Regions from separate parts of the Homo sapiens genome. Here all the other regions are linked to region 1. The links come from fine-mapping of genetic effects on gene expression. A gene starts in region 1. Each other region holds a variant in brackets. All regions are shown on one strand. Distances are from middle to middle. Region 1 holds the start of NAA30 (N-alpha-acetyltransferase 30, NatC catalytic subunit). Region 2 overlaps CCDC198 (coiled-coil domain containing 198). Region 3 has its middle 61 kb from the start of AP5M1. Region 4 overlaps CCDC198 (coiled-coil domain containing 198).

What was found. PIP is the estimated chance that this variant, and not a neighbour inherited with it, causes the effect.
Region 2: its variant is the best candidate, but not a certain one, in a credible set for the expression of NAA30 in unexposed skin (GTEx, PIP 0.85).
Region 3: its variant is the best candidate, but not a certain one, in a credible set for the expression of NAA30 in sun-exposed skin (GTEx, PIP 0.64).
Region 4: its variant is the best candidate, but not a certain one, in a credible set for the expression of NAA30 in whole blood (GTEx, PIP 0.68).

What each region holds. Positions count from the first base shown.
Region 1 is chr14:57,386,726-57,394,833 of GRCh38, forward strand. It overlaps NAA30 (N-alpha-acetyltransferase 30, NatC catalytic subunit), which reads left to right and starts at 3,861. Exons shown (of 5, transcript NM_001011713.3): 1 at 3,861-3,980; 2 at 4,232-5,003. The coding sequence starts at 4,233. RefSeq lists an enhancer at 3,845-4,840 and silencers at 3,969-4,108, 4,239-4,388.
Region 2 is chr14:57,480,073-57,488,180 of GRCh38, forward strand. CCDC198 (coiled-coil domain containing 198) reads right to left here. Exons shown (of 6, transcript NM_018168.4): 3 at 2,993-3,079; 4 at 1,487-1,588; 5 at 523-682. Among named protein-coding and RNA genes, the nearest start is that of CCDC198, 9.7 kb to the right of the region's middle. The variant A/T (reference allele first, on the strand shown) is at 4,019.
Region 3 is chr14:57,325,631-57,333,738 of GRCh38, forward strand. No RefSeq gene overlaps it. Among named protein-coding and RNA genes, the nearest start is that of AP5M1, 61 kb to the left of the region's middle. The variant G/C (reference allele first, on the strand shown) is at 4,466.
Region 4 is chr14:57,463,307-57,471,414 of GRCh38, forward strand. CCDC198 (coiled-coil domain containing 198) reads right to left here. Exons shown (of 6, transcript NM_018168.4): 6 at 5,994-8,108. The coding sequence ends at 8,049. Among named protein-coding and RNA genes, the nearest start is that of CCDC198, 26 kb to the right of the region's middle. The variant G/A (reference allele first, on the strand shown) is at 4,106.

The sequences.
Region 1 (8,108 bases):
GACAGCTGAAGGCATAGCTAAATTAGAGACCAAAAATTTTTTGGCTCTAATATGTAGGAATATATGATTCTCTCCAACATGTCTCACCAGCCCAGGTGTATCTGTGAGAATCACCCTGACCATGTCTTCAGGCAGGTCATGAAGAGTTAGTGTGAGGTTGAAAATAATGGAAATGGGGACCATTTGACCACAACCCTCTCTGGTTCTTCATAGTCCTCTGAGGCCTCAGTTCTACAAACAAAATTGATGCCTACCTACAATTGGTACTGCCATCCACTACTGGCAAGGGGAAAGAAGTTTAAAGAACAGACTGTCATTCCCCAAATTCGAAGGGAAGAATCAAATTGTTAGTCTTTTACCTGGGCATCTCAGAGTGTTCTAAGATTACAGGTAATACAACAATATACTAATATTCATCCTTTGGTTAAGTTCTTCAGCTCTCAAATTTGATGTATGTTCTTTCTTTCATTCAAGATGAAACAAAGTTAAGGACATTCATTTTCAGGGCTTTATGTATAATAGATAGGATTAGTGGGATTAAGAACCACATGACATGTAAAATAAAACTACACAAATATTTAAATTATTTAGTATGTGTGCCTATGGCACATAACAATGTCATCCTGCTGTGTCAAGGGAACTTAAAGCATCTTTCCATTATTCATTCCCACAGTTACCTTTCAGGTAGGTACACAGCTAGGTTTTCTCTCTAAACCTAGCCAATAAGAGAAAAATGCCTCACTGTTAGAAAGAATTAAATAGAAATTTTTCTCCTTCCAAGCTGATTTCAATAAATTGCTTCAGGATGTTGTTTTAAAATTGCTATTGGTTATTTTAATTGATTTAATGAGAAGCTTTTTTTTCTTCTAAAAAATTAAGGCATGTTCTCTTCTTCCTCAAAAGAGAACAACAATAGTAAAAAAAAAAAAAAAAGAAAAAAAAAGAAAAGAAAAAATGGCTGTTGCTTCATAGGATATTACAAAACAATGAAAATATCAACTAACCACACAGAAGAGTATCACTGCTACACTCACCTTGCTCTGAGCCCATTCTTTCCTATGAAGTATTGCTCATGGAGGTAGTTGTTTTTTCAGAGTCTCATAATAGTAAATATGTCTAAAGCATTAGAGTGAACTAATCCTATTTCTATGCCTAAAATAGTGCTATCATCCTATCAAGTAAACATGAATCAAATAGAAAAGATTTCATAAGTTATAAAGGCAATTTTTTTTAGAGATGTCATCTGATTTAGAAGGCCAACATTGTAATTTTAATACTGGGATATAAAGAAAAATCACTGGGGCTGAGACATTAGAATTACCCCACTAGTTATTGAGGAGGTCAGAATTTACTTTGTCATTATAAGCATTCTAGGTTACTGAATGAGAGACTGGTGTACTTCAGTCAAAAAGCTTAACAATTTCCCTTTTATGTGTTTGATATGTGAATACAAAGTGACTAACATTTACTCCCTGGCCTCAAGAAGGTCCTTACAACTCTTGACTTTCTGAAAACCACTTTGAGACAACATCTGGTCAGCTCCTCAGTGTGACAGAGCTCAATGCCAAGTTGCAACACAGAAAGAACAGGAAGGCCTGCTGCCATTCATTCACTACAGTGAAGGTACATGCTTTTTAGGAAGGGCTTACATTTAAAAGTAAATTACTGAGAGGTATTTTTCTAAGTAAAATTCACCCTTAAACATCTCTTATGGAATTATCTGGTGCCTCTTGGGCCAGTTTTTCCACCATGATTTGAACAGATCATTGTTTCATTGGCTGACTACCCAGGTTACACTTAGAAACTTTGAAAAACATGTATCTTTAAACAATGTATGCACATTTGGAAACATGGTTTTGTTTTGTGCTTTTTAAAAGACAGAAAAGGGATCACGCTGTACTTATACATCTCATTTATATCCCCCACACATCAAGGTGTTTAGGAGGTTTTCAATGTATCTGTAGCAAGTTATACATTCTGAAAATGGCCACAGCAATATTTCTGGTCCCATATGCTCTTTGAGAACCTTGCCTCTCTCCACCAAGAGTAGAGTCTATTTCCCCTCCTGTCAAAACTGGATATAATTTTGTGTCTGCCTAGATACAATGCAGCAGAACTGACACTACATAACTTGTTTTTTGTTTCTTTTTGATGAGAGGGAGTCTCCCTGTGTTGCCCAGGCTGGAGTGCAGTGGCGCAATCTCGGCTTACTGCAACCTCCGCCTCCCGGGTTCAAGTGATTCTCCTCAGCCTCCTGAGTAGCTGGGACTACAGGCATGAGCTACCACGCCCGGCTAATTTTTGTATTTTTCGGCAGAGATGAGGTTTCACTGTGTTGGCCAGGCTGGTCTCGAACTCCTGGCCTCAAGAGATCCTCCCGCCTGGGCCTCCCAAAATGCCAGGATTACAGGCGTGAGGCACCGCACCTGGCTAGAGACTACATGACTTCTAAGGCTAGGTTATAATGGGTAATATGCTTCTGATTGACTTTCTCGCACGATACTTGCCGTGGAACCCAGCCACCAGGCTGTGACAAAGCCCAAACCAATCAATGCTAAAAGACCACCGGGAGAGGTCTACATGGACTAGAACTGAGGCCTCCAGCCTTTATCCTGCATCAACCATCAGCGGTGAAAGTGAAGTTTTCAAATAATTCTACTCCTCAGCCTTAGAGTCTTCCAACTGAAGCTCTACGCATAATGGAGTAGAGAAAAGCCATCCCAGTTGTGCTCTGTCTGGATTTCAGAGGCACAGAATCTGCGAGCATAATAAATACTTTATACATAGAGTTTAGATTACGGCAAAAAGTTGCAAACGTGTTCCGTCATAGAATTATATATTGAAAACGTCCATCTGCGGCACACCAGACCAGCTCTATAAATCAGGTTTTTAACAAAACCGAATTTGTTCAGTGAGCGGGTGAGTTACACTACCTGTCTCAGCTCAGACCTGCCGGGAGTCAATTGTGGACTAGAGCAGAAGGCGCCCAGCCACAAGCTCAAGTTCTATCCCCTTTGCACTCGATAGGCAGATCCCCTGGGAGGATCAGGCCACCTGTTTACCAGTGCTTCCTAACCTATTTGTGTCACAAGTTTAGGAGTGTGCTTCTTAGCCCTGGTCACTCTCTTTCACCACCTCTCTCTAACCCTTCCCCAGGTGTGCTAGCAATTGCCCAACACCTGTCAGTCACTTTTGCCTCCAATTTTACTGGGTGCGAGGAGCAGAGTAAGGAGGGAGAGGAAGAGGGCTGACTCCCTTGCCTCAAAGTGGCAAGGGCCAGCTGAACTTAATTCACACTGCAAACCACCACGTTTCGACAGCCATCCCCATATTTTCACAGCTCAAATCTTCCTTTCTTTTTCGGTCGGCTTCTCTGATTTGCTCCATTTTTAATCGCTCCTCCCCCATCCTCCTTGCCCCTGGTCAGGGCAAACATTAAACGCTGTGCAGCTTTAAAAGGGCATTTTTAGGTGACTTGTAAACGGCTTGTTCCACAGGCCCCGAATTGGCGAGATTCGCTACAGCTCGGAGTGCGCGGTAGACTTTAAGCAGGGAGCGCCTGCCCGGTCCATCCCTCCCCGGCCCCGCGTGGCAAGCACCGCAGGTTGAGGCGCCCCCAAACCGAGGAAGAGGGTTTGGGAGCCTGTGACTCCAAAGCCCTCTGCAACTTCCCGGCCCCACAGCCCCACCCACTAGCACGCGGCCTTCCCCGCAGCCCGCAGGAGACACCTTTGTCCCCGCCCCTCCACAGGTCACCTCCCTCCACGCCCCTCTCTCTTGGCCCGGGCAGCCGGCAGGCAGGGAAGTGTCGTAAAGCCAGGCCCAGGAAACTTTACCCGGCCTAACAGCTGAGGCGCTTTACGGCGACGGCGGCTGAGTGAGAACCTTGGCGGCTGTGGAGGCTGCCGCGGCTGCGAAGGAGGCGGCGGCGGTGGCGGAGGAAGAGGAGTGGCGGCAGCGGCGGCGGGGACCCGTGCGGGGTGAGCCGTGAGGAGGGGCCGCGAGTGACAGGGCTGGCGGGTGGGCCCGGGCGGACGGGGACGGTGGCCGGCTGAGCAGCTGGGCGGCGCTGAAGAGCGGGGGGGTGGCGGGGAATTGGGGGGCAGCTCCGTGAGGGACGGTTTCTGCCTTTGTTCCCCCCACCTCGGCCGCCCCCCATCCGTCGCCCCCTGTTCTCCGCGCTCCTCGGCCGGGTTTCATGGCCTCCCCTCTCGGTCTGTGTCGCTTCTAGGATGGCGGAGGTACCGCCTGGGCCTAGCAGCCTCCTCCCACCACCAGCACCTCCGGCCCCGGCGGCGGTCGAGCCCCGCTGTCCCTTCCCGGCGGGGGCCGCCCTCGCCTGCTGCAGCGAGGACGAGGAGGACGACGAAGAGCACGAAGGCGGCGGCAGCAGGAGCCCGGCGGGCGGAGAGTCGGCGACGGTGGCGGCCAAGGGGCATCCGTGCCTCCGCTGCCCTCAGCCGCCGCAGGAGCAGCAGCAGCTCAACGGATTGATTAGCCCCGAACTGCGGCACCTCCGGGCGGCCGCCTCCCTCAAGAGCAAGGTCCTGAGCGTAGCAGAGGTGGCCGCGACCACAGCCACCCCTGACGGAGGCCCCAGAGCGACTGCAACAAAAGGAGCCGGGGTACACTCGGGCGAGAGGCCCCCTCACTCCCTCTCTAGTAATGCAAGAACTGCGGTCCCCAGCCCGGTGGAGGCAGCGGCGGCGAGCGATCCCGCGGCGGCCCGCAATGGACTGGCCGAGGGCACCGAGCAGGAGGAGGAGGAGGAAGACGAGCAGGTGCGGCTGCTGTCTTCGTCCCTGACCGCCGACTGCAGCTTAAGAAGCCCTTCGGGCAGGGAGGTTGAGCCTGGGGAGGATCGGACGATACGATATGTCCGATATGAATCCGAGCTACAAATGCCCGATATCATGAGACTGATCACCAAAGATCTGTCCGAACCCTACTCCATTTATACCTATAGATATTTTATCCACAACTGGCCACAGCTGTGCTTCTTGGTAAGTGGATAGAATAAAAAGAGGGTGAACCCAGCAGTGATCGAGACTGTGCGGGGCAGGGAGTGAGGGCCCAGAATGTGGCAGTGGATATCTCCTGCTGCGTATCATAGTACGTTATATGATGTCAAGTGCTGTACACATTCCTAGTTATTTAATGAAATTGTTTTGAAGGTAAGACTTCATGATTCGGGTTAACGTGATACTAGTGTAACTGCAGCAAGCCTGTATGGTGGCGTGTTTCACTGGGGTGGGGGTCTTGTGTCTTGTTTACATTAGATTATAATCGTGTTTAACCGTCTTTAATTACCCGCCCGCATCCTCAAACACTTTACAGTCATTTAATTTGAACATGGTTCTGTTCAGATACAGGCCTTATTAGTCTCTCGATTACAACCATAATCAGGGAAGAGTGTATGCATAAACATGTTGTGGTGAACATGGATGTCAGCAAACTTGGTGTGGTCATATTGGAGAATTAAATCTTACAAGCATTTTCGGTAATTATGGAGATGTTTCTCTTTACTTCAACTGGACAATTAACAGTTGTAGCCAGCCTGCTTTCTGGTACTCCATTCCAGAAAGCGCTACTAACACTTCTGGTGGCTGAAAGACTCCTGAAACTTGAACAAAATACCCTTTTGTGGAATGTAGAAAACTTGTGTGAAATTGTTACCGATCTGATTTTTTTTTTTTTAATTTAAGAAACTGGTTGTAGATGTGGCCAAACACTAGTAACACTGGCTTGTGTAGAGTATAATTGACAATAATATTACACGTAAGTGAAAGACTTTTGGACGGTTTTTAAAAATTAACATAGTATTGGCAGTACCAGTAATTTCTTCACAATAATATTGACCCATTTCAGTCTGTATGAACCCTTTAACTTAAACGTTGACTGCAGGTGTATGCTTTGTATCATGTGCTCACAAGCATATTGTTTCTGTTGAATTTTACTACAGAAAGATGACATCCTTTTAAGGAATATTTTTTAATATGTGAAGGGAAAAGCCACCATTACTTAATGTTTTAGCATTGGCTTAGTTTCACTTGGTAATTCCCTGCAAGATATTTTGACAATACTTATCTTTTTGATTCTCTAGCTTGGTGATAATTTGAAAATGTAACCTGGGTATTGTAGATAATGGTAGTTCTATTTTCTGTCTTAACTTGCTTAAACTTCAATTCAGTACATTTGTTAAAACTGTGGGTACTACTTTATATTCTTGAAAACTGCTCTTTCAGTATTCTAAGCATTGTATCAGAATAGTTCTAAGACATGTCTGTGTCAATGAATATGAGAAAATGATTTATAGCACTATTATAAATGTCATATCAAATGCCACTGTAATTGCTAAAAATTGTAGATTTAGTTGTAAGTTAACCCACAGAAGTAGATGATTGAGTCACATTTCAAGTTGAAATAGATGTTTTTCTGTCAATTCCAGGAAATAGTTGTGTATATGATATTTAGTCAACTTTGAGTCCTGATAGTTACCTAAGCCTCTCTCAACTTGTTTGCTATTTTAGACTCTGGTCAACAATATTAGTAAACTTTAGATTTGATTTTATGTAGAACCCTCCCAATTCACCAGCTAATGTGTATGTTAGCCTTTAGTAGCTCAAGTTTGTTTAATATTCTGAGTATCTAGAATTGCGATATGCACAAGTGGTTGACCTATAAGATTTACTGGTGCAAGTATGAATCAGGAGGTATTAAACAATAATAAAACAGTAAAAAAACAACCAGGCCATTTAAAACTGAAGCCTTTATCTTGGCATACTTTTAAATTTAAGTTTCCCATAGGAACTATTTTTTTAAAAATACAGATGCGTAAATGTCTGTTTATTTTAAATCATATCCTTTTAGAACTGAAAGCCATCCTAGAGATAATCTAGCCCAACTTAGGTTTTGTTCTGTTTTGTTTTTTGATTGAAAAAAAGTTAAGAACCAAAGTGACTTAAAATGTTTCAATCTCCAGATATTTACTGACAGAGGGGTAGGTTTTGTTTTGTTTTTTGATTGAAAAGAAGTTAAGAACCAAAGTGACTTAAAATGTTTCAATCTCCAGATATTTACCGTCGGAAGGGTAAAGCTAGAACCCAGTTCTCCTGGCCTCTCATTATGGTAACAAACAAGAACCTGAAAAATGACATACCCTTGATCCATTCAGTGAAGATTATTGTGTCACCAAGTTATCTTCACCAAGGGACAGTTGCCCTTACATCAATCTCAAGAGATTAAAAACCTCCAAAATGTTCCGTTTTCCGTGGATAACCTGTAATGGGTCAATGGAGTATATGGGGTTGAACCTTACAAAATTGCCAATACTTGATTAATAAAAATGATAGCTTATTATGATTCTTCCTAATTGTAAAAGATGTAAAAAAAAAAAAAAAAAAGGACAAATGTGAGACACTTTCAGTTACTCTGTACTTAACCATTTTATCTTTACCTGTTTTCATAGTAACATTTTCAGTTGTTGGTATCTTTTTGAAGTTCTTAAACTTACTCTCAGCAAATGTAACATAGTACTTCCATTTATTTGTTCTAAATTTAACTTTTTGGCTTCCTCCAGTTTTCTATTTGTAGTGTTCTAGAATTTGGGAATCTCTCACTTTATTTTTTTCATAGTTTTATAGACTGACAACCCTTTGGCCTTGTAGTGTTAAGTCTTAATCTTGCCGGGGATTTTTCAGTTCCCATCCTTGAAAAAATACATTTAATAGCGTGAATTCCAAATGTATATGCAGAGCTTTTATTTGGAAAAATTGACAAGCAATTTAGTGATTCCTGTAAATGTACCACATATTCATGAGTAGTTTATCAGGAAAAAAAAATGCAGCATTGGTCTTCACTACTAATGTCATCGTAATGGTGTATGATATATTGGGCTTTTTAGATGATGTATACAGCTTGATTTTTGCTCCTATAGATTCTAAATTAGGAAGAAATCAGGTCTTAAGAATGAACTAATTTAATATTTTGTTTGCTTATTCCATGCTCAAAGGACAAAGATTTGTTTGAAATTCCTGTTCAGATTGAAAGTACTGTCCAGTTGTATTGTGTTTAATGGTTTTAATTTTTCCTCATTTTTGGATAGTTTT
Region 2 (8,108 bases), 93 kb after region 1:
GCCTGGTTCACTGAGCCAGTAGATCAGCAGGAACAGCAAGCTTAGGTTGGGCAGTGATTCATTCTAGAAATTCTGAATGTGCCAAAGAGAGTTGACCTCCACAGAAAAGGGTGCAGTCAGGAAGATAAGTGTCTGCATATGGTACCAACTCTGCTGAAGCAAATTTGCCATGTGACTGCCGGCAATATATCTTCATATGCTTCATTCTCTCTAACCACAAGATGAGGCTATTTTGCCTTTTCTGCTTCTAGGGATGAGGCAAGACTTGCAATGAAGCATGCAAAGCATATTAAACCCATACAAAGAAAGAGACATTTAATTACCAAGCTTAAGCTTCTGTCTTTTCCTCCCAGCCATCCAAAATTACATGACAACATGCCCACTATATTCTGGGAAGTAAAAATCTCAGCAAGAGCTCAAAGCTGTTTGCTGTCTTCTCATCATGTCCCTCCCTTGGTAGTTTATTTGATGAAGTTTTAAAAACACTTGAAATGTTTTACTAAAAAATTGTACATGACTCACCGGGACCTCTGTTCAAGATTTCATCAGGCAACATGGTTAGAAGGTCATGGTCATCATTCCTTGGGGTGCTTTGAAGGGTTTTCTTGGCTTTATGGTCCCTTGGACTTTGCTTATTAATTCTTGCCTCTCCATGAAGACTTTTCTTTAACTCCATTTGGGCCTGAAAATCATCAACTATAAATGATCAATGTTCTTCCCAAGCTACTTTCACCAGACTAGATCAACAGATCAGCCACTTTGCAAGTTGTGTGCTTATCTGTAGACATCTGCAGTCCTCTAACCAGAACATGGTTTTCTTTTTCCTATTAGAAGGTATGGGAACTTTATTTATTGACAGGCTTGTTAAGAGAAAGGTGAGTGCACCCAGTCTCAAAAAGGTATGGCTCAATTAAGATGAGGACCTTTACAAAAGTGTGTTTCTGTCAGCTAGCTGATATGATTGGAGTTCCAGAGAGCAGTAACTAAAGGCTCATTTCCTAGAGGGAGGAATTTGGAACATGACAGTTACAGGCATTACTGGTAAAGGGTTTTTTTGTTTGTTTGGTTGGTTGGTTGTTTTTTTTACAAGAGGTCTTTCTTGTTAGATAATTCTATGGCAAGAATTATAGAGAGAGGCCTAGGTATCAGAATAAAGAACAACTCACCCCCTCCTCCTTTCACTAAACCAAGAAAAATGATCTAGCCCCATTTTCCTATGTCCAGAATGTCATAGGAGCAAACTGTTTTTAAAAATGGAGACTTGCGACACAGATACACAGATACAAACTTAGAAAAGACTCAACAAGGTTATCAGCAGAAGGAATCTTCCTGATTCTTCTCAGCTTTAGTAGTTGAACCTTCAACCTCAATGACGAAATTTAAAATGCTAAGTAAAGACTGGCTATCTATGCTTGATATATTCATGTGGCAGGGCAGTGATTATGTGATGAAAATTTGGTAAATATGACACTCTTCTCGTATTTACCTCTTGTCTTTTACGGATCATTTCCAGCACTTGCATCTTATGCAAATATTGTCTGTTCTCAGAAGTATACATTGGAGTTTGCATTTTCTTTTCTAGTACCTGCTATGAAAGACAACACACTTGTTAGTATGGGGTAATTTGTTACTGACTCTGCAATTCACAAGTTTAGATCCTTTTTGAAACAGAGTCAGATCTTAATCAGTCATAACCTGTAGAGATATCTTGTGATGACAAAAGTGGACTATCGTGTGTCCCTGACAAGTCCTTTGTGTCACTATCAATGAATGAAGTGGCTCTTTGATGTGTATATATGTAGTTTTTTAGGTTGCTATAGAGTTTTGTAAACCTTAAATGGGAATATCTTTCCACATCTCATTTTTGGCAAGATATCACTTCCTTTGTAAACAGATGCTTATTACCACCTCTCCAGAATTGTGTTCTGGTTTGAGGAAACCTTTCTTTTTCTCCCTGCCTCTTTTACCATTGAGTAATTGGCTGGCTATGAAATGAGAGGGAAGCTGCTGAATGGTGAAATGGAACCTATTTCTATAGAGTGCATTTCCATATGCCAGCATAAGCCTTGGAGAATATTGCAGTTTAGGGAGGATTTGAAGTTGATTATTTGTGACTCTGAACATCTCCCCGCCAGTGCATCATAAACTCCAGTGGGACAGTGCAGACGGTTATTGAGGGCAGCCAGAGGTCAATATACCTTCATTTGTCATTTGCTGTTGCCAGGAAAGATGATGTGTTTGACAATACCTTTTGTGTTGCTGTGTGGATAGTGACTGTCAGCTGATGTGAACCTCAGGGAGGGGCCATCTCCACAGATGCTGTCAGCACCACAAACGTGGGCTTGAGGATGTGACAGCACCTGGACATCTTTGTCAAGTCAGCCAGCCACACAGCAGCACCTAGCAAGCTCCAAAACAAATTAGGAGTGGAAAGTGTTGAAAATCTGCTTCTACCTCTAAGCTTTCATTTCTATGTGAGGGGAGTTCTAGTCAACAGAACATTATAAGTGCATAGCAGGGAAAAGATACACAGAAGACATTTCCCAGGATTAATTTTTGGTGAGGTTGTGTCAAATAAGTCAGGAATAACTTGTAGATAAGATTTCTCCTGCAAACTGAGAATAAAAAGTTTTAAACTGAGGGGAGGAATGAAAGGGAGGACTTATGCTGAATTTTTCACAGATTTGAAAACTTCAGAATCACCAATTTCTAAGTAAAAGTCTTTTCTCATCTACATTGCCCTGGTTTTCAACACAAAGCAGAAAAGGGTGCAGAGCTCATGCAAGAGGTAATAGCCACTGCCAGTTGGAGGCATGCACAGAAGAGAATAAATAGCTTTGAAAAGTTCTCACTCTGAATGACTTAACAGTTTGATTTGTCTTTGAACTCCTCCATGCAGAGAGTGCATGAAAGGACCAGTGTGCTCCAGTGCCCCAATCCTGTGTCGCCCACCCCCAGTTCACCTCCCTGTCAGGTTACTGCTGCAGCTCACCTTTGCTTTGTGCATTGTCCTGGCTTCTCGCTGGCTCAGGAGTCTTCCTGAAGTAATTACTCGTGGCAAGTCAATGGGTTCAAGCTTCTAGAAGTTCAACGTTTAGAGCAGTCAGCATTCCTCATGCCATGAGATGATGAAACAGAAAAGCCAGACATTAAATTATCTTAACACTTTGCAAAAGCGGCACTTATTTCTGAGAGCATACAGGAAAGGTGATTCTAACAGCATTACAGTTATATTGGTACAAAGGGCTTTTCAACCTATCTGGGTTCTTTATTATTCTAGTGCACTGTCGACAGTGCCTTATTGATCTAAGTGTTGGTCAGAGAGTTAGGAGACTAAGATACTCTTCTGTCTGCATTAAGGGACCATGTCCAAAGTTATCAAACCACCAGGATCTTAGAATATTAGAGATAAAAGAGGCGCTAGGAATTTATTTTATTTCACACATCCCTTAGGTACCCAGCTGAACTATTCCAGCCCTTAGGGAAGCAATCTGTTTTTAAGATCTCTAGAGAAGCTCCTTAGTAGTAATCACTGGTGATTATGAGACACATTTAAAATGAAACTGCAGTGTGCTAACACATTTTAGAGATGTCCTTTTCTAGCAGGGGCTTGGCTTGATAGGGGAGATCATGTTGGCATTTCAGGGGGTCACTAAGACTGGGCAGCAATTCATGTCAACCGGTCTGCCTCCAGCCGGATCTTGATCACTGAGAAGTGATCAAGCAGGTTTGGGAGACAAAGTCTGGTCTCTTGACATTGACATGCAATGGGGAACGTGGAGGGCCACAGAGTTTATGTGTTCCTTCAGTGACTACTTAATGACTGCTACATGCCAGACATGGGGATGCAACGGTCACCAAAAGTGGATGTGGCCCCTCATGGAGCTTACAATCTATGCATAATAGATGTACATTTGCTTGTGTGATTATTCAAGTGATAATTACACTGCAGGGCAGAAAAAACCTGCAGGGCAGAAAAAATCTGCAGGGCAGAACTATGACACTACATAACTGAAGG[A/T]CTCCACCTGAAAAACAGGGTGTGTTAGGGGTTGAATTGTGCCTCCCCACAAAATTCATATGTTGAAGCCCTAGCCCTCCATACCTCAGAATCGGAACTTATTTGGAAATAGGGTCATTGCAGATATAATTAGTTAAGATGAAGTCATGCTGGAGTAGGGCAAGCCCCTAATTCAATATGATAACGTCCTCATTAAAAAGGGGAAATCTGGACACAGACACACACACAGGCAGGACACGATGTGAAGATGAAGAGAGAGGTTGGGGCGATGGTTCTTCAAGCCAATGAACAGCACCCAAGAGTGCCAGAAAACTACCTAAAGCTAGGAGAGAGTCGTGGAACAGATCTTCCTCACAGGCCTCACAGGGAACCAACCCTATGGACACCTTGATCTCAGTCTTCTAGCAAACTAAGGCAGGAGGGAAAGGGCTAGGGAGGCAGTTCAAGAAAGTGCCTTAAGGTAGTACCTTTTTAGTAGAAATTGGAAGATTGGGAGTTTTTAAGGGACTAAGTTGTGCCATAGCCCTGAGGTGGGGAGTGATCATGATCTCTTGAAGGAATGGAAAGAAATTGGTTGGCTGCAGTTTACAGTAAGTGAAACAGCAGCTTGGAATGAGCTGAGAGGTGAGGCAGGGGCCAGGTCATGCAGGGCCTGACAGGCCATTAAGATAGTGGTCCCTTAAGAGCAATGAGAAGACACTGACATGCGTTAAGCAAAGGAGTGACACGAGTACATTTGCTTTTTAAAAAGGGTCATGCTGGCTGCAGTGTGGAAACTAGGAAGGAATAATTATGGATGTGGAGAGATCAGCTAAGAGGACAAAGATGATGGGCTGGGGTTGAGAGAGGGAAATTGATGAGCTCTACAAATGTTTAAAGCTGACCAAACAAGATTCATTATGGTTAGTAAAGGGGAGTAGAGTCCACAGTACAATGAATGGAGGGTGTTATCATACCCTGTGATGGGCAATCCAGAGGAAGACCTAGTTTGGGTAGGATGTAGAAGGAAAATACAAATTTGGTGTGCAATAGATTGAGTTTGAGACACCTTTAAGACAGGCCAGTGTAGATGTTGAGTTATACAGGGAGCTTGGGAGGAGAGGTCTGTGCTGGAGATTTTGGGGAATAATCCCAGAGTAGAGCATGAGTGAAGCCCAGGTCATGGGCAAGGTCAGGAGTGAGAAGAGAAGAGCCAACAACTGCAGACTCCAGGAGTTCCAGTGGTGAGGCTGGTGCCCAGGAATAAGCTGGCCAAGGAGACTGGGAAGTGATGGCTCAAGAAGTAGGAGGAAAACCATGAGGACATCATGCTGCTGCAAAGAGTGTGAGCCCTACTCCCACCTTAGTCCAACGCTGAAGGCACATGCTAATTTACTTTAAAATGGTTTAGTTTTAGTGTGATTTGTTGCATTATTAAGGGGGTAGATTTGGAAGTTAACTTGGCTTTCAAGGTGACCAGAATAAAAAGAGAGAGTGGAACCACGGAAGATAGATACTGGATATTCAGCACTTGTAATGGGGAGCATGACCTGGGTTCCCCACTACTTCCCTGTACAACCACTTCTAGGTCCCTGGTCCTGGACTGGAGAGCACCCAGCAGTCCTTTCTGCTGGAGCAGCCCAAAGTAGACCTGGTAAGGAAGAGAAGAAGGGCAAAGGATGTGGAGACAAAGAAGAGACAACAAGGGGGAAGAGCTCATCTTTGTGTTAGATATATACCAGATAGTAATTTGCATTTGTGGTGGGAAGTGGTTCTCTGTTCCATTCTCACCTCAGAGGAGGAAGTGGGTCTTTTAACATAACTTAGCAAAGATGTAATGAGAGGAGATCAATCCTAGTAAGAGGAGTTTGTCTGTTCCCTGAGTCTTAACTCTGCAGGACATGAAGATGCAAAGCAAATGGGACCTGCTGGCACAAGAGGCAGCTTCTGATCAAGTCAGAACCCTGCAAGAAAAGGGGAAGGAGAAGAAGGGGAGGGGAGGCCAAGGGAGAGGAGCCCCTCAAGGCACCTATGGGAGGAAGAATCAGGAATGACTGAAGGGGGATTTCTGGAAGCTGGGGAGAACAAATATTTGTGCCATCCTCTGGACATGGAGAGTGTTCAGGATTTGGTTCTTTCTCATTAGGCCTATATGCCTTCGCAGCCATTACTGCACGCCATGCCCAGGGTTATAAATATGTAATCTCATTCAATCTTCATGTGAACTCCGTGGATAATTACGAAGATTCCCCATTTCAGACAGGTTGCTGACTTGTCCAAGGTTGAACAGCTAGAAAGTGGCATCTCCAGGATTTAAGCGCAAGTGTGTCCAGCTCCAAATCTAAAGCTCTTTTCTGCACTATATGTTATCCAAAATGGCTTATCATCAGACTTTTCCGGGATTAAAAAAAAAAAAAGAAATTCTTGGCCCCTTCACTAGAGATTGAGATTCAACAGGTCTGGGGTATGTCCTGGAAATAAATATTTTCAAAACTCTCCCAGGGATTCTGATGATTTCTTTCTAGGTTGGGGGCCATTGACTTCCACATTGCCTTAAGTGAATAAAGGAACGACATCATAATAGACTACGGAGGATTTTTTTATGTGGAATATTTTTGAAAAATTGAGTCTGAAGAAGCCAAGAATTTTTAGTTTTATTAAACTAATCTATCCATAAATTCATGGACCAAGTTTTTGCTTTGATAGTATAAATATGTAGTTTCACAGATCTCTTTCTTCCATTTTCAGCCTTTCTATTTAAACACACAATTCTAATAAGGGTTCAGTGGTAGATATCTTCAAGAACTCTCTCCAGGTTGAGTTTCTCCCTGGCGTTTGAAAAGAGCCCAAGGAATCACACTATTCCTTCACAAAAGCCACTAGATGGCAGCAACTAACATTGCACCTGGGATCTCTTCATTAAATCCTTTGCCACTTGATTTGAGAAGCACTGCAGAAAATTGTTGGTGAAATTGGCTTCTGCTAAATTAACCAGTCAGATGAAATTGCCTCAGAATTCTGGGTTTGTGTGCATGTTCCTTTTCCCTGCCCAGGAAGTGAGATGCCTCACTTCATCATCTTCAAAGAGAACACAATGGAAGGAACTACCAGAGAATCGGTTAGAATGACACCTTATTTTCACTTTATAATGTAAGTATCATTTGTCTAAAGACTTCTGGATTATTTGACTTCTCAAACAAAACAAATGATCAGCATAATCAGTTGAAGCGTCTGCTAGGAGATTTGGGAATCTGGTGAAGGGCCAGGGGACTCAAGAGTGCTGATATGGGGGTTGCAATGTCAATTGATTGGTCAGGGTGGGTCTTATAGGGACAGTGAGATTTGAACAAATATTTGAAGATGAGGGAGTTATCCAAGGAGATCATCTGAGGACACACTATATGTGTGGGGGAAACACCTCCAATTTAAGCTAGACCTGAAATGGTTGGATAAGAAGGTGATCAGGCCAGAGGGGACAGTGCTAATCAACTCCTCAATAAAAAGGCCCATTTGATTCGGAGTTCCCTGGCAGAGGCTCTCAAAGCCTCTCAGCTCCAGGCTGGATAACGCTAGTTCATGACTTGCTCTTTATTTGAGGAGTAGATGTTTAGGAAGTAGAAGGTGCCAAAAATATATCTCAAATAATTTAGCATACAATTAGATTTGGTTTAATAATTTAAAATAATTTTAGAATTTTCTTTGGCAGAAATTAGGCTATTAATTAGCATGTCATGAGGACCCAGCATGTATTATTCTCTCAAAAACTCATTTGTGCTGGAAAATGTGCTGAGCTTCATTTGTGAAGATAATTATAGCTGATCTCTTTGGGAGTGTCTGCCAAGTTTCTAGTGATTTCCCTCCTCTCTGGGAGCTGACTTCAGAGTCTACAGGGGAGATGACTCTGCCCACATATCTACTGCATGAGCATATCCTCTGGCCATAGCTCATTGGACCAGAGCTGAAATCATGAGCAAAGCTGAGCCGATATCCTTTCTCCTAGGAATCTGGAATTGGAGTCAAAAAGGCCAATCTGTCCATTTGACTGGAACTGTAAGATACAAGCTCAGGGTGGCCATATTTCATTGTGTACCTGAAGAACAGAAAAAACTGA
Region 3 (8,108 bases), 61 kb before region 1:
GAGGAAGGTGTGTTATAAAATGTTTAGAAAATAGAAAATGGGAGAAAAAATGACAGCAGTCCAAAATAATCATGATGATAATTTTGACTTTCTAGTCTTTAGAAAAAGTATTACATATAACTACACATATTTTTACATGTAAGTAATCACACTACATGTTTAACTTCGTCTCTCCCACTGAATATAGATAAAGACCACAGAATTCAAGAAGCAACTGCCTGGGAACTCTGAGAAGTATAACAAAGCAGTTTGAGGAAGAAATTCAAAACTCAAAGAATGGCTGCGCGAGGTGGCTCACACCTATAAGGCCAACACATTGGAAGGCTGAAGTGGGAGGATTGCTTGAGCCCAGGAGTTTGAGACCAGCCTGGGCAACATAGAGAGACCTTGTCTCTACCAAAAAAAAAAAAAAATTTTTTTTTTTTTAATTAGCTGGGCCTGGTAGTACATACTTATGGTCCCAGCTACTTGGGATGCTAAGACGGGAGGATGGCTTGAGCCCAGGAGGTCAAGACTTCAGTAAGCCATGACAGCACCATGGCATTCCAGCCAGGGTGACAAAGGGAGACCCCCTTTTCTAACAAAATAAAACAAAAACTGAAGAAAAACTGCAATGGTGTTAGTAATGGTGATCTTTGTTTCTTTGGGGGTGGGCAATTTTTGATTTGGGGCTTTTTTTTTTTTTTTTGCTTTTACTGGAGGGTGGGTCACATCACAAAACTGCTCGGCAGATGCAGACGACAAAAACCGTCGGGCCAGAAGACTGGCAATAAAAACCACTGCAAACTGAAGAGTGCGGGGGAAGTCCCTGTTTTTCACCTTCCCCTTTTTCCTCTCCCTGACCTGACCTGAGGCCAATCATGCATCTCCGTGTCATGGCATGCATGTGGTGAAGGTTGTAGAGGAGTCTCCATTATTTTTCTCTCCACTTCTCTCTCACTCCCCCTCTGAGAGTGGGCCCAGTTGTATGGAACTGGGAGTTTCATTAGCACAGAGGTTAAAACTCTTAACGAACCCCATCTCTCCTGCCAGAGGAACCAGGAAAAGAGATCACTGGAAGTTAGACAGTGTGGAGGAAATCTCAGAGAGGAGAGATTTTGAGAATGAACCTAATTCTGTGAATGAACTGACACAAGTCCTAGCCTTACCTCCAAGCTGTCCATGGGGGAATACACACACACTCACACATACACACACACACACACATACACAAGCATAGTAAAGGCTTTGAGAACTGAACTAGTATTGGAACTACTGCTCAAAGAGAGAATTTGTAATCTCAACCTATGAGGGTTTTTGCCTGCTGAAACAAACAAAATGAACATTCTCCAGAGAATTTTAGCAGGACTCAGAGACTCACAACATAATATTTAAAATGTTCAGGATACAATCCAAAATTACTTGATATGTAAATAACCTTGAAAATTGGATCAATTCTCAAGAGAATAAACAATCAACTAATGTCAAACCCAATGAATTAGTCAGGATTCTTTAGAGGGACAGAACCAATGGAATAGATTTATACATAAAGGGGAGTTTATTAAGTATTAACTCACACCCTCACAAGGTCCCACAATAGGCCATCTGCAGGCTGAGGAGCAAGGAGAGCCAGTCCTAGTTCCAAAACTGAAGAACTTGGAGTCCGATGTTCAAGAGCAGGAAGCATCCAGCACGGGAGAAAGATGTAGGCTGGGAGGCTAGGCCAGTCTTTTCACACTTTTCTGCCTGCTTATAGTGTAGCCTCACTGGCAGCTGATTAGATTCTGCCCATGAAGATTAAGGGTGGGTCTGCCTTTCCCAGCCCACTGACTCAGATATTAATCTCCTTTGGCAACACCCTCATAGACACACCCAGGATCAATACTTTGTATCCTTCAATCCAATCAAGTTGACACTCATTATAACCATCACAAGTCCACCCCTTGTTAACTTGAACCCATACACATCTCCTGAGATCATACATAATCTTCGAATAAAGACAATAATAAGGTCATAATTACACTTAACAATACAACTATCCTTCATACAACCAGAAATGCACCCATCCCCAATCCAAATACTATTACATAAAGTTAACAATACTTAAATGCTGATGTGAAGTCAATAAATCTTATGTCACATGGTAAAGGAGAAAGGAAATAAAGTGAAGATATTTTCTTAGTACAAGTGTATACATGCACAAACATGTTTTTAACAAAAGAAGGAGGAAATATTCATGACAATTACAGTCCTGTTTCTGCAGCCAGACACATGGTCATAGCTGGTATTGATGACTACCTTCTACTACCCATTCTGTATTCCCTTTGCCTTCAGCAAGCACCTCAGCAGGTCATGGTTTTTTCCTGGTGGAGTGACCCAAACCTTCATTCCTGAAGGGTCTGGATCATTTGTAGTCCTGCCTGGATTGGGCTGTTGTAGTTTCCCATTGACCTTAATCATAGGGCATGGTAATACTAAGAGACGCCCTAATGGATCTCCTGTATTCCATGCACATTTTTCCTTACCTCCATTGTGGAGTGGTAGACTGATTTCACCTTGATAATCCAGGTCAATCACCCCAGCCAACACTGTAATTCCCTTCTTAGCCTGTTGGCTTAAAGGTAGGAGAAGCCCAAAGTGTCCAGGTGGCAATCTTAACTTCCAGTTTAATGGAATCGTTGTTGTGTCTCCTGGTGGCAGCATTTCTCCCTCTGGAACTAAGACCTCTAGGCCACAGAACGTAATGTCGCAGGAAAAGGAAGCAAAAATTTTGCTAGTAGATCACTAGGGGTGATGGTGAGTGGTGCCACTTCCACTTCCACCCCTTGATTACTGGACCTGTGAATCCTGGCTATGGGAGAAACAATATCACATATTGGATGCTGATTCAGAGCATATGGGGCCTTCTGGAGAATTTTGCCCCAACCCTGCAAAGTACATTGTACTTTGTGACTTGTAATTGTAATTGTGACTTCAAAAGGCCATTCCACTGTTCTATCAATCCAGCTGCTTCAGGATGATAGGGAACAGGGTAAGACCAGTGAATTCCATAAGCATGAACCCACTGCTGCATTTCTTTAGCTGTAAAGTGAGTGCCTCAGTCAGAGGCAATGCTGTATGCAATACCATGACGGTGGATAAGGCATTCTGTGTGTCCATGGATGGTAGTCTTGGCAGAAGAATTGCATGCAGGATAGGCAAACCCATATCAGCAGTAAGCATCTATTCCAGTGAGGACAAACCTCTGCCCTTTCCATGATGGAAGATGTCCAATATAATCAACCTGCCACCAGGTAGCTGGCTGATCACCCTGAGGAATGGTGCCATATTGAGGGCTCAGTGTTAGTCTCTGCTGCTGGCAAATTGGGCACTCAGCAGTGGCCATAACCAGGTCAGCCTTGGTGAGTGGGAGTCCATGTTGCTGAGCCCATGTGTAACCTCTCTCCCCGCCACCATGGTCACTTTGTTCATGGGCACATTAGGTGATGACAGGGGTGGCTAGGGAAAGGGGCTGAGAGGTGTCCACAGAACAGGTCACCCTATCCATTTGATTATTAAGATCCTTCTCTGCTGAGGTCACCCATTGGTGAGCACTCACATGGGATACAAATGTCTTCACAGTTTTTGACAACTCATTGTGGTCCATCCACATAACTCTTCCCCAAATTTCTTTGTCACCAATTTTCCAATCATGCTTCTTCCAAGTGTCTGACCATCCAGCCAAATCATTGGCTACAGTCCATGAATCAGTATATAATCACACATCTGGCCATTTCTCCTTCCATGCAAAGTGCACAACCAGGTGCACTCTCGAATTTCTGCCCACTGGGAATATTTTCCTACACCGCTTTCCTTCAGGGATGTCCTAGAAAGGGGTTGTAGTGTTGCGCTGTCCACTTTTGGGTGATGCTTGCATATCATGCAGAGCCATCTGTGAATCAGGCCCTGGTCTTCTCTTCCTCTGCCAACTGATCATAGGGAACTCCCCATGAGGCCATCGGTGTAGGCTGGGGAAGAGAAGGCAGGGTGGCAGGAGTGGAGACCATGGGGATTTGAGCCACTTCCTCATGTAACTTACTTGTGCCTTCAGGACCTGCTCGAGCCCAATCACATATATACCACTTCCATTGGATGATGGAATGCTGCTGTGCATGAACCACTTTATGGCTAGATGGGTCAGAAAGCACCCAATTCATGACAGACAGTTCAGGTCACATGGTGACTTGATGACTTATAGTCAAATGTTCAGTTTCCACCAAAGCTCAATAACAGGCCAAAAGCTGTCCTCAAAAGGAGAGTGGTTATCTGCAGAAGATGGCACAACTTTGCTCCAAAATCCTAGAGGCCTGTGATTTACCTATGGGGGCTTGCCACAGGCTCTAAACAGCATCCCTATCTGCCACTGACATCTCAAACACCATTGGATCTGCTGAGTCATATAGCTTAAGTGGCAGAGCAGCTTGCACAGCAGCCTGGACCTGTTGCA[G/C]AGCCTTCTCCTGTTCTGGATCCCACTCAAACTGGCAGCCTTTCAGGTCACTCAATAAATGGGCCAGAGTAACATACCCAAATGAGAAATGTTTTGCCTCCAAAATCCAAATAGGCCCACAAGGTGTTGTGTCTCTTTCTTGGTGGTAGGAGGGGCCAAATGCAACAACTTATCCTTTACCTTAGAAGGAATATCTCGACAGGCCCCACACCACTGGACCCCTAGAAATTTTACTGAACTAGTAAGTACCTGAATTTTAGTTGGATTTATTTCCCACCCTCTGGCATGCAAATGTCTCACCAATAAGTTCAGCGTGCTTGCTACTTCTTGATCACTAGATCCAGTCAGCAAAATGTCATCAATGTAGTGGACCCGTGTGATATCTCACATAAGTGAAAAGAGATCAAGTTCTCCCCAAATAAGATTATGACGTGAAGCCAGAGAGTTCATATACTCCTGAGGTAGGACAGTAAAGGTATATTTCTGGCCTTCCCAGCTGAAGGAAAATTGCTTCTGGTGGGCCTTATAGACAGGAATGGAGAAAAACACACTTGCTAAGTCAATGGCTGCATACCCGGTACCAGGAGATGTGTTAATTTGCTCAAGCAATGGAACCACATCTGGTACAGCAGCTGCAATTGGAGTCACCACTTGGTTAAGCCTAAGATAACCCACTGTCGTTCTCCAAGATCCATCTGTCTTCTGTACAGGCCAAATGGGAGAGCTGAACAGGGATGTGGTGAAAATCACCACCCCTGCATCTTTCAAGTCCTTGATGGTGGCACTAGCCTCTGCAATCCTTCCAGGGATGTGATATTGTTTTTATTTACTATTTTTCTAGGCAGAGGCAGCTCTAATGCCTTCCATTTGGCCTTTCCCACCAAAATAGCCCTCAACCTATCAGTCAGGGAGCCAATGTGGGGGTTCTGCCAGCTACTAGGTATGTCTATGCCAATTATGCATTCTGGCACTGGAGAAATGACCACAGGATGAGTCCCAGGACCCACTGGACCCACTGTAAGTCAAACCTGAGCTAAAACTCCATTAATTACCTGACCTCCATATGCCTCTACTTTAACTGGAGGACCACAATGACATTTTGGGTCCCCTGGAATCAACGTCAGCTCAGAGCCAGTGTCCAGTAGTCCCCAAAATATCTGATAATTTCCCTTTCCCCAGTGCACAGTTACTCTGTTAAAAGCCCAGAGGTCTCCTTGGGGAAGGATGGGAGAAAGATTTACTGCATAAATTGTCAGTAATGTAGTGAGGTCCTTCCTCAAGGGGACCTGGCCTCCCCTTCATTCAAGTGGCTTTGGGTTTGTAAACTCACTCAAGTCTGGAAATTGATTGAGGGGCCATGATTCTGTTTTTATAATTCAAATTAGTCTTTTGTCCATTTGAGCTAGAAGTCTTCTGCTTGTATAAATTAAGTAGGAATGCAGTAGGTTTCCTATTAATTTCACTTCTAGGAACACAGTGATTAATTAACCAGTGCCAGAGCTCTATACAAGTCAGACTATTCTGATTGCCACTTTGCCTCTGCTGTCCATTATGGCAGTAGCTATGCCCACCTTGCCTTTGACAGTTGAGTGCCACCACTTGGCCCCTCCCACCTCAGGATCCAATTATTCCCATTGTATTTAAATTTTGTAGTTGAGTGACTGTGGTTTCCACTGTTAGATCTGACATACAGAGAAGAGCAATTACAGGGCTCTTCAAAGATGCAGGTGCTGCCCTCACAAATCTGTTTTGCAAGGCATTGGTCAAGGGTGTATCTTCTGGACCCTCTCAGCTGGGATAAGTAGGTCTAAAGTGGCTAATCCACTCCACCATCCCAATCTCCCTAAGCCTTTGGATCCCTTCCTCTACATTAAACCAAGGGAGATCAGGCATTTCCAGCTCATTCACAGTGGGCCATCTTTTAATCCATATTTCAGCTAACAAAGCAAATAAATTATTAGAACTTTTTTGAACTCCTTGAGCTGCAACATTAAATGCAGAGTCCCTACTTAGTGGGCCCAAATCAATAAATTCAGCCTGATCCAACTCTATGTTCCTTCCACCATTATCCCACACCCTTAATATCCATTCCCATGCCTGTTCTTCAGATTTCTGCTTATATAAATTAGAAAACTCAAGCAGTTCTTTTTGAGTGTAGTGCACCTCCCCATAGGTCACACTCTCAACCTCACCTCTAGGGGCCTGCCAGGACTTTAGTCTAGTTATATGTCTAGAAGCAAACAGGGGTGTTGGGGGTGGCTCCTGATGAGAATCAACATTATCTTGCCTGGAAACTGCCTCAGGGAAGCCCATCACTGTTGTCTCAGGCAGCGCAAACTTTATCTCCTCAGACAAAGGTGGAAAGGCTGATGGCAGCATGGGTCGGGGAGGGGATGCTGCCACTACTGGGGATGGGGAAGCTGTTTGTTCTGGTAAAAAAGTTTCATCGAGAGAAGGCAGGAAAGGAGGCTGTGTGTGTGCAAGGTGTGGGGGTGGTTAGAGGATCCTTCTATGCTCCAAGTCAGCCCTGAGTCTCCATGACTCTTCTCTTTCTTCCCAAACACCCACTGAGCACTGTGGGGTATTGACCGCAGCCCTTACCTTCCAGGGACTTTGATGATGCATAAAATGAGGTCATCCTTGGAGTTGGCAGGAAAGTCAGAGAAGGAGGTGCTCCAGGAGGCAGGATTAAATCAGGAGTTATCAGGGTTTAGAAATTATAACATAAATCACAGCATCTACCACGTAGTAGGCACTGCTCTAAGCTCACAAAGTCCCCATAAGCCTTCAAGATAAATTCTATTATCATCCTCATTTTGCAGATTAGGAATTGAGGCACAGAGAGGTTAGGTAATTTGTGCAAGTCACACAGCTGAGAAATGGCAGAACTGGGATTTGAAACCCAGGCAGAGTGGGTCTGGATGTCATGATCTTAACCATGATGAAATTTACCAATGACCCTCTCCCTCTCCCTCTCCCTCACGGTCTCCCTCTCCCCACGGTCTCCCTCTCCCTCTCTTTCCACGGTCTCCCTCTGATGCCGAGCCGAAGCTGGACTGTACTGCTGCCATCTCGGCTCACTGCAACCTCCCTGCCTGATTCTCCTGCCTCAGCCTGCCGAGTGCCTGCGATTGCAGGCGCGCGCCGCCACGCCTGACTGGTTTTCGTATTTTTTTGTTGGAGACGGGGTTTCGCTGTGTTGGCCGGGCTGGCCTCCAGCTCCTAACCGCGAGTGATCCGCCAGCCTCGGCCTCCGGAGGTGCCGGGATTGCAGACGGTGTCTGGTTCACTCAGTGCTCAATGGTGCCCAGGCTGGAGTGCAGTGGCGTGATCTCGGCTCGCTACAACCTCCACCTCCCAGCCGCCTGCCTTGGCCTCCCAAAGTGCCCAGAGTGCAGCCTCTGCCCGGCCGCCACCCTGTCTAGGAAGTGAGGAGCGTCTCTGCCCGGCCGCCCATCGTCTGAGATGTGGGGAGTGCCTTTGCCCCGCCGCCCCGTCTGGGATGTGAGGAGCGCCTCTGCCCGGTTGCGACCCCGTCTGGGAGGTGAGGAGCGTCTCTGCCCAGCCGCCCCATCTGAGAAGGGAGGAGACCCTCCACCTGGCAACCACCCCGTCTGAGAAGTGAGGAGCCCCTCTGCCCGGC
Region 4 (8,108 bases), 77 kb after region 1:
TTTCATTGCCCTAAAAATCCTCTGTGTTCCACCTATTCAACTCTTTCTCTCCCCTAATCCCTGGCAACCACTGATTTTTTTTTTTTTTTTTTTTTTTTTTTTTTTTGAGACAGAGTCTTGCTCTGTCACCCAGGTTGGAGTGCAGTGGCGTGATCCCAGCTCACTGCAAGCTCCGCCTCCCGGGTTCACGCGATTCTCCTGCCTCAGCCTCCAGAGTAGCTGGCACTACAGGTGCCCACCACCACGCCTGGCTAATTTTTTTGTATTTTTAGTAGAGACAGGGTTTCCCCGTGTTAGCTGGGATGGTCTCCATCTCCTGACCTCATGATCCACCTACCTTGGCCTCCCAAAGTGCTGGGATTACAGGCATGAGCCACCGCGCTGGCCACTTTTGCACATTTTACAAAAACATGTAACCAAGTTGTAGTAAGCTCTTGGCGCCCCCATCGTATCCCCACAGGCCTTAATTTGGCTTGGCTTTTACCAGCATCTGTATCTGTGAGCCTGAGAACTTCTCTCCACAGATAGACCTGAGGATACATGGCATTTAAGAAGTACCAGATAATTAATTCTTCTTCCCTCATGCTCTGGCAGCCATCAACCAATGACTGACTAAAGGTGGTGTATCAGACCCCAGCATACTTCTTCTATAGATGAGATAACTTTGAGGCACAGAATTCCCCAGCAGGATTAAGCCTGGTACCCAGAATAGTAACTTCCTTGATTATGCCCCTTGATTGGCAGCTTTCCCTGTCTCACTTTACTCCTCTACTGGTATTTCGTGGCATCAGCTCCAACATAAACTGCTTGCATTTCATCCTTGTCTGCTCCTGGAGAACTGTAATGAAAACTCATGTAAATGATTTGCTAGTGCTCCTCCCAGGGCAGAGGACTGTGTGCACGAGGGGCCTTGAAGCTGAAGCTTCCTGAGCTTCATGGTACGTTGCCTCCACCTGTTTGCTACTTCAGGAGGGCAACATCTGTGGACTACAGCACAGTAATAATGGCAGCAAGACATGTTTTGGTAGAGAGTGCCTGAGATAGGCCCCTCATCTCCCTGCCCCATAGGTTATGGAGAATATTTAAGAAGTTTCCAAGGCTTCCAAAGCAGAGTAGGGGGAGGGGAGCTGAGAATTGAGAGCCATGGGGATTTCTTAGCACAGCATGAGGCATGGACAGCCTACCTTAGGGACTGTATAGAAGATATAGTTGATTATTTAAGGATGAGTCACACCCTCTAGACTGAGGTGGTGACCATCTCAGCAGGAGAAAACCACTGGGCTTCTTCCTGAGCAATCATTACACAAGGCTAGTGCTGAGAGTATGGTGGGAAGTGACACCAGCCAGGGAGGTTGGGGTAGATGCTCAGGAGAGAAAGGCCGATGCCCAAGATCATCAAGATGGGTATCGTTCAGTCGAGGCCAGTTTGGACAAAGGATGGCACCAATGAGCTATTCCCCACATGCCCCCAGGATAGCACCATAATCAAGGCCTGTGTGTCTTCCCCCAGCCATGGACCCTGGCTGGGGAGGAAAAAGGGAGAGTGGGAGAGAATCCTGAGGGTGCACTTCAAGCCAGGAGTGACAAAAGTACCCTGGATTGGTAAGAGCACAGTTTTCAATAGTAATGGAAAGGGGAGCTTGAGACTTGGAGTTACAGAGAAAGGATATTCCAAGATAGTGTACCCTGAGACATCTCCCTTGTGATCGGTGAACTCACTATTTACCCTTGAGCATTTGTCTTTGCACAGTGTTCTGTTGGATAAATTCCGAGAAATGGTTTGCAAAAGCTGTTGATTTTAAAATATAGTTCTTTTATCCAACACCCATTTAATTCCATTATTAAATCAAAAAATGTTTCAGTTGATTCCCTTGGGTAGTCCAGCCATATAATTACTTCCCCTGCTAATTGTGATGCATTTATTTTCATGGTTCCGTAGTTGTGTACTTCTGGCTTTTGTTCTGTCTTGTTGAACTGATTAGACTTCTAGAACCACTCTCACACACAAAATCTTATTTTATTCCTAATTTCAATGGTAATAACATTGTTTGGTAACTAGTGTGTATTGAGCAGTTATTATGTGTCAGGCATTGTTCTAAGCACTTTATGTGTATTATCTTATTTCATTGCCACAACACACTGTTAGGTTGGCATTATCCTTTTCCCCATTTTACAGTGAGGATGCTGGCCAGACAGGTGAAATAATTACCTAAGAGAGGGATTGGCCAAGCTGGGCTGTGACTTCTGGCTCCAGAGCCTGGTGGGTCTTACTTCTAGCCAGTTGTGTCAGTAAATGCTTAATATCAGCTTTCTGAAAAAAGCCCTGATCTGCAACATTCACTAATTTTTCTGGTGTAAATGTTCCCACCATGGCCGGCATGGCATCACTGAACACAGATTGGGAAGAGATCCTCATGGTTCCTTTTGAGAGCTGGTGCTGGCCACTCATGCCGATTCCAGCACACCACAGCCTCTGCTGTTGTGTCATGAGGCAAGGAGGTGGCTGCTGCTTAAGATATCTATTAGTTGAAGTTGTTTGATTTTAAGAAGCAGAAATCGGTTGGAGCTGGCCCAAGCAGAAAGCACAATTTATGATAGGGATACAGTCTCAGAATGAAGGGCAGGGGGCAGCAGGGCCTTGGGAAGGACTGGGAATGAGGAACAGATGTACTGTCAGGCCTCAGTGGGTCTCTCTGGTTCTTTGCTACAGGTCAGCATTCTCTGCATCTCTGGCCTACAGGGCAGAGCACTGCCACCCATTGCTCCTGAGCTTCCTCGCTGAGCTTCCTGCCACCAGCAGAAACCAAGGCCCTCTCTGATTGCTCAGTGGGTCCAGGGTCAGCCCCAGGTCAGCTAGCTATGGCCATGTGACTTTAGTGGGTCTGTTTGCCTTTGTTCATGATTATATTGGAGATATCAGTCTAGACCACAAGTATTCCTTTCTGACTCTAAAACTGTATTACACTTCAAACCCATTGTCATACCATGCTCCTCTGGGCTTCTCACATCTGGGCCCTGACCAGCTTTCTGACATCATCCCTGTTTGTCTCTCCTTTGGTCGCTCTGTCATTCTGGCCTTCTTGTTGGCTCTTGAACCTTATAAGCTCATTCTTGTCTCAGGACCTTTGCACCTGCTCTTCTGGTGTTTGTAAAGCCTGTTCCATGGATCTTCTCATGGTTCACACCTTCCCTTCATTCATGGTTTTTCCTCAGAGTCTCTCCCTGAGCATCCTGCCTCAAGCAGTTCACTCCATCCCTGCCTACCCTGTTATCTGATTTATTTTTCTTAATCATGCTTAACATTACATTAAGTTGTATTATCTTGTACTTGACTATCTGCTCGTGATCTCCCCCACTGGAATGTAACCCATGGGTCCAGGGACTTTGTCTTGTTGATGGCTATATTCTCAGCATCTGCAACAGTACTTGGCATGTAGTAATACTCAAACCCACTCATTGAATGCATGATTAAATGATACACAAATGAATGAATTGCAGACTTATTATAAAGTACATATCTTTAAAAAATCCTTAACTATTGACTTAGTTTCCAATTGTGTTATTGTGTATTCTGTACTTGAATGAAATAGCATTTCTCTTAAAATGAGATGTAATTCAGATTTTTAATGGTCGGACCTTCCATAACCTACCCTTTAGCATACTTTCTCCGAAGCCTTCCCTGTAGCAATCTAAATTGGTGAGGTTTTGCAGTAATATGTGGAAATAGGCTTTTATTGTTTATTCAAGGCAGAAAATAGTTGATGTTAATTATAATTTGATGACCATTATGTTTCTGTGGTAAGAAAGGGAGGGGCACAAAGAGCTGGGGTTCTATTTTCTGTTTTTAAAGGCTCTATGTAAGCAGAAAACATTATCCATTTGTTCACAAGTCTATTTCATAGGTGACTCCTACAAAAGTTACGTTTAGTTAAATCCCAGTATAGTAACTCTGAATTATCATCAAAATAAGTACGTGATGAAAAACAACACTCTGCCTGAAAAAAAATTGAGAAAAATATATTTCCAAAAGTATTCAAGCAAAAAAAGATATTTCTCTTTCTAATGAAAAATTCAGAGCAAGAAGGAAAATATTATTTTCACAAGA[G/A]GAAGTATGAATTTAGTCCTAGACAAGCCTATTTTCTTTCCAAAGCTGGAGAGATTTTCAGCTGAAGAAAATTGACAGCTTTACCTCTAGGCTGAATTTTATAGCTTTTATCAGCAACAGCTGGTTTTATGATGGCCGTACATTGCCCTGAACAAATTCGAGATTAACTGTAGGATTGGTGTTCTCAGAAAATTACTTACAAAATGAACATTTCTCTTACTGTTTTGTGAAGCTCCAGGCCTAATGTCCTTAACTTTAAAAAACTATCTCAGAAGTTCTTTCTTTTATAGCTAGAAGGTGATATAATCTGGTAAAATAGAATGTTCTTATTGCTAAAGCTGTAATTTTCAAACTTAGCTGTGTGATAGATTCACCTGGAAGCTTAAAAAAAAAAAACTCAACCACCCAATGCCAGAGCTCTACTCCAACCCAATTAAATCAAAAGGTGGGGCCCAGAAATCTTGGTTGTTATTAGTTTTTGATCATTGACAGGTGATTCTAACCTGTCGCCAGCATCGAGAACTGCTACCCTTGAGTCCTTGTCACATTGTGCAACTGAGCTACCTGCTACCCTTGAGTCTTTGTCACAGTGTGCAACTGATCCACCCTGGATGGGGCTTTTCAGTGGGGATGCTCACCTATGCTGCCCCCAGGCCAGGGGTCTCCAACCCCTGGGCTGTGGACAGGTGCTGGTCTGGTCCATGGCCTGTTAGGAACTGGGCCGTACACAAGAGGTGAGTGGTGGGCAATGGAGCATTACTGCCTGAGCTCCCCCTCCTGTCAGGTCAGCAGAGGCATTAGATTCTCATAGGAGTGTGAACCCTATTGTGAACTACACAGGCAAGGGATCTAAGCTGCATGCTCCTTATGAGAATCTCATGCCTGATGATCTGAGGTGGAACAGTTTCGTCCTGAAACCATCCCCTGTCTCACCCATCTGTGGAAAAATTGTCTTTCACAAAACTGGTCCCTGGTGCTGAAAGGTTGGGGACTGATTCCCTAGGCCAAATTGGGAAGACAGTTAAGGTTTCCTTTACTCTCTCATCTGCCTTTCTTCTGTGCTTTTATCCTCCCTTTGCCTGCAGTTCGGCTATCAGTTAAGCTATTCCTTGCTAAAAGATAATTCCACAAAGCTCTCACCCTTTCTAGTGTACTATTACCTCTTCCCCACTCCTCCCAAAAGGAACCACACCATGTAATGCAAAAGAAATACAGAGTGCTGTGTAATGTAGTTGGTGAGTTGGAAGTAAAATTGAGGAAAGGAGGGAAGAGTCCTTGGCTTCTATCAGGTCACTTTTGGTAAACAATAGTCTACTCCAAAGGGAAGTTCTGCTAGGTGACTCTGGCAACTTACTTAACCTTTCTGTGTCCCAATTTCCTCATCTTTAAGATGGGGATGATATTAATACTGACCTACAAAATCATTATGAGGATTAAATAGGTAAAATATTTGAAGAGTACTGGCCCACAATAAACAGGAAATGCATGTTGGCAATTATTACTATAATTATTACTCCTTTAAAATCCTTGAATTCATCATAACTGCATTATAAGGAGTTCTACATGGAGCTGGCTAATAAACAGAGAAGGCATTAGGATGGATTTTCTTTGGAAGCTAACACACTCTGATAGTTTTGAAAAGTATTTTGAGCTATGGCATCCTTATTGGCATATACACATAGTTCCTGTATCCCAAGGCAATGCTTAATTTTGGCCATTCATTTAGATGTATAAACGGCAACAGCTTTTGCAAGAAAAAGTCATTTTCTTTACTATATAATCAACCTTGTCTATCCAAGACTCCTGGGAGATGATGGAAATGAGGGTGAGCAACTGCATAGCTGGAGAGAAACAAGTGTTTCTCTAATTGACTAGTCAACTCAACACATTCATTAATTCAGCAAACATTTAATGATAAACTCTTTGCCAGCTGTCCTGCTAGGAAGCAGAAATACCATACAAAGAAGACATGGTTTATGCCCTCATGTAGCTCACAGTTCATTAAGCTTGTGGAAGTGGGTTTCGTGAAATTGAATTTTAAGTCACATAACAGAATGGTGAAGACGTGCCTTTGGCTCCACTAATTTTAGTGTTCAAAGTTATCCATCCCATTTTTTGTGTTTTAAGCCTTCCAAATTGACCACAATAAGTGAGGACACCATGAATAGGTTGGATTTGTTTATCCTCTCAAGGATCTCATTTTTTCTAGAAAGCTGGCTAGTCAAACAATGCATGCTTTCTTTTGGTGGAAATATGCTTCTTACCTACCACAGAAAAAGTAAGAAGACTACTCACAAAGAACTGGGAATAGATATGGCCTGGGACAATCTAATAGCCTTCTGTCCTTGGAAGAAACATGAATTTTTATCACCTGACATCTCAGGCTTGTTATCTTCTTAGTTTCTGATGTGAATGCATTGAATGTCAAATTGAAGTGGTGTTTTCCTCTATTTTTTTCTGTTTTTGGAGTCTTCCCATATAAGGCACAAAAGGGTCTTTTTGTTTTGCTTTGTTTTAAAGCTTTAATAAATTCTTGGAAGATTCTGGATTGCTTGAAATTATTTTTAGATTATGCTAAACATGGAGCTGCATTTTACACAAAAGTTCTTAAAAATTGTCCCAAAAGCTAATTTTTCCAAGTGGAATAACTTTAGAATTGAACATTTATAAGATTCGCTTTATGTTTTAAGGAGCTCTAAAATCTACATCATAATCTAAGAAGTCTTAATTTTGAACTTTAATTCACAACGATCTTCTACACGTGACATTATCTCACGTGTATCCTGTAGGCTCTCTGTTACGGTTAGCTCACTAGAAAGTGACCTAAGTGAGCTTAGTGTTTAATGCAGCATTACTGTGAATTTCCTTTAGAAACTCACTTTTATTTGTCTCCAGTCTACTTTTTCATCTATTTGTTTTTGGTTTTTTGTTTTTTAATTTTGAGACAGAGTCTCATTCTGTCGCCCAGGCTGGAGTGCAGTGGAGTGATCTTGGCTCATTGCAACCTCTATCTCCTGGGTTCAAGCAATTCTTTTGCCTCAGCCTTCGCATCAAGTAGCTGGGATTACAGACGAATGCCACCATGTCTGGCTAATTTTTGTATTTTAGTAGAGACGGTGTCTCACCATGTTGGCCAGGCTGGTCTTGAACTCCTGACCTCAAGTGATCTGCCCACCTCGGCCTCCCAAAGTGCTGGGATTACAGGTGTGAGCCACCACATCCAGCCCATCTATTTGTTTTATGTAATCTAATTTTCTTTTTAAAAACATGGTGAGGTGGCAAATGTCAAAGATGAACCCCAAAGGACCACACTTTGGCACTCATGCCCTTGTGTAGTCCTCTTCTGCATTAACTCCAAGCTGGTCTATGACTTTAACCAACAGAACATGGTGGAAGTGATGCAAAGTCAGTTCTATGACTAGCTTTTAAGAAGACTGGCAACTTCTGTTTCCTCCTCTTGAGACAATTGCTTTTGGGAGCCCTGGGCTCATATGAGAGAAATCTCTGCAGTGTCCTGCTGAAGAGATCATATGCAGATGCTCTGAGGCTACATGGATAGGGGGCAAGGTCCCCCTGTGTCAGTGTCCTAATGGGGCCTCTGGATGACTCCAGTCTTAGTAGTCCAAATGTAGTCCAATTTCAATGACATGAAAGATTTCAAAAGGGAACAGCAGAAGAACCACCTAGCTGAACTCAGCAACCCACAGGAAAGTGAGACAATAAAATGGCTCTTGGTTAGCCCCTGTGTTTTGAGGCATTTAGTTATGCAGCAATAGTTAACAGCACATGTGACGGACTTGTTAATCATAAGACTCTAAAGATATCATTTCTTTTTACCAAAGTGATTTGCTGTCCTCAAAGTAATTCATATATCAGTTTGGAAGATTTTGAGAGTAAAACAAGCTTTCAAAGCACTCAGTTTCTAGGTTAATGAATAGTATTCTTATTCTTGATCAAAAAACTCATCGAAAAGTGGGATTCTCTCTGTCCTGGTCCTCACCAG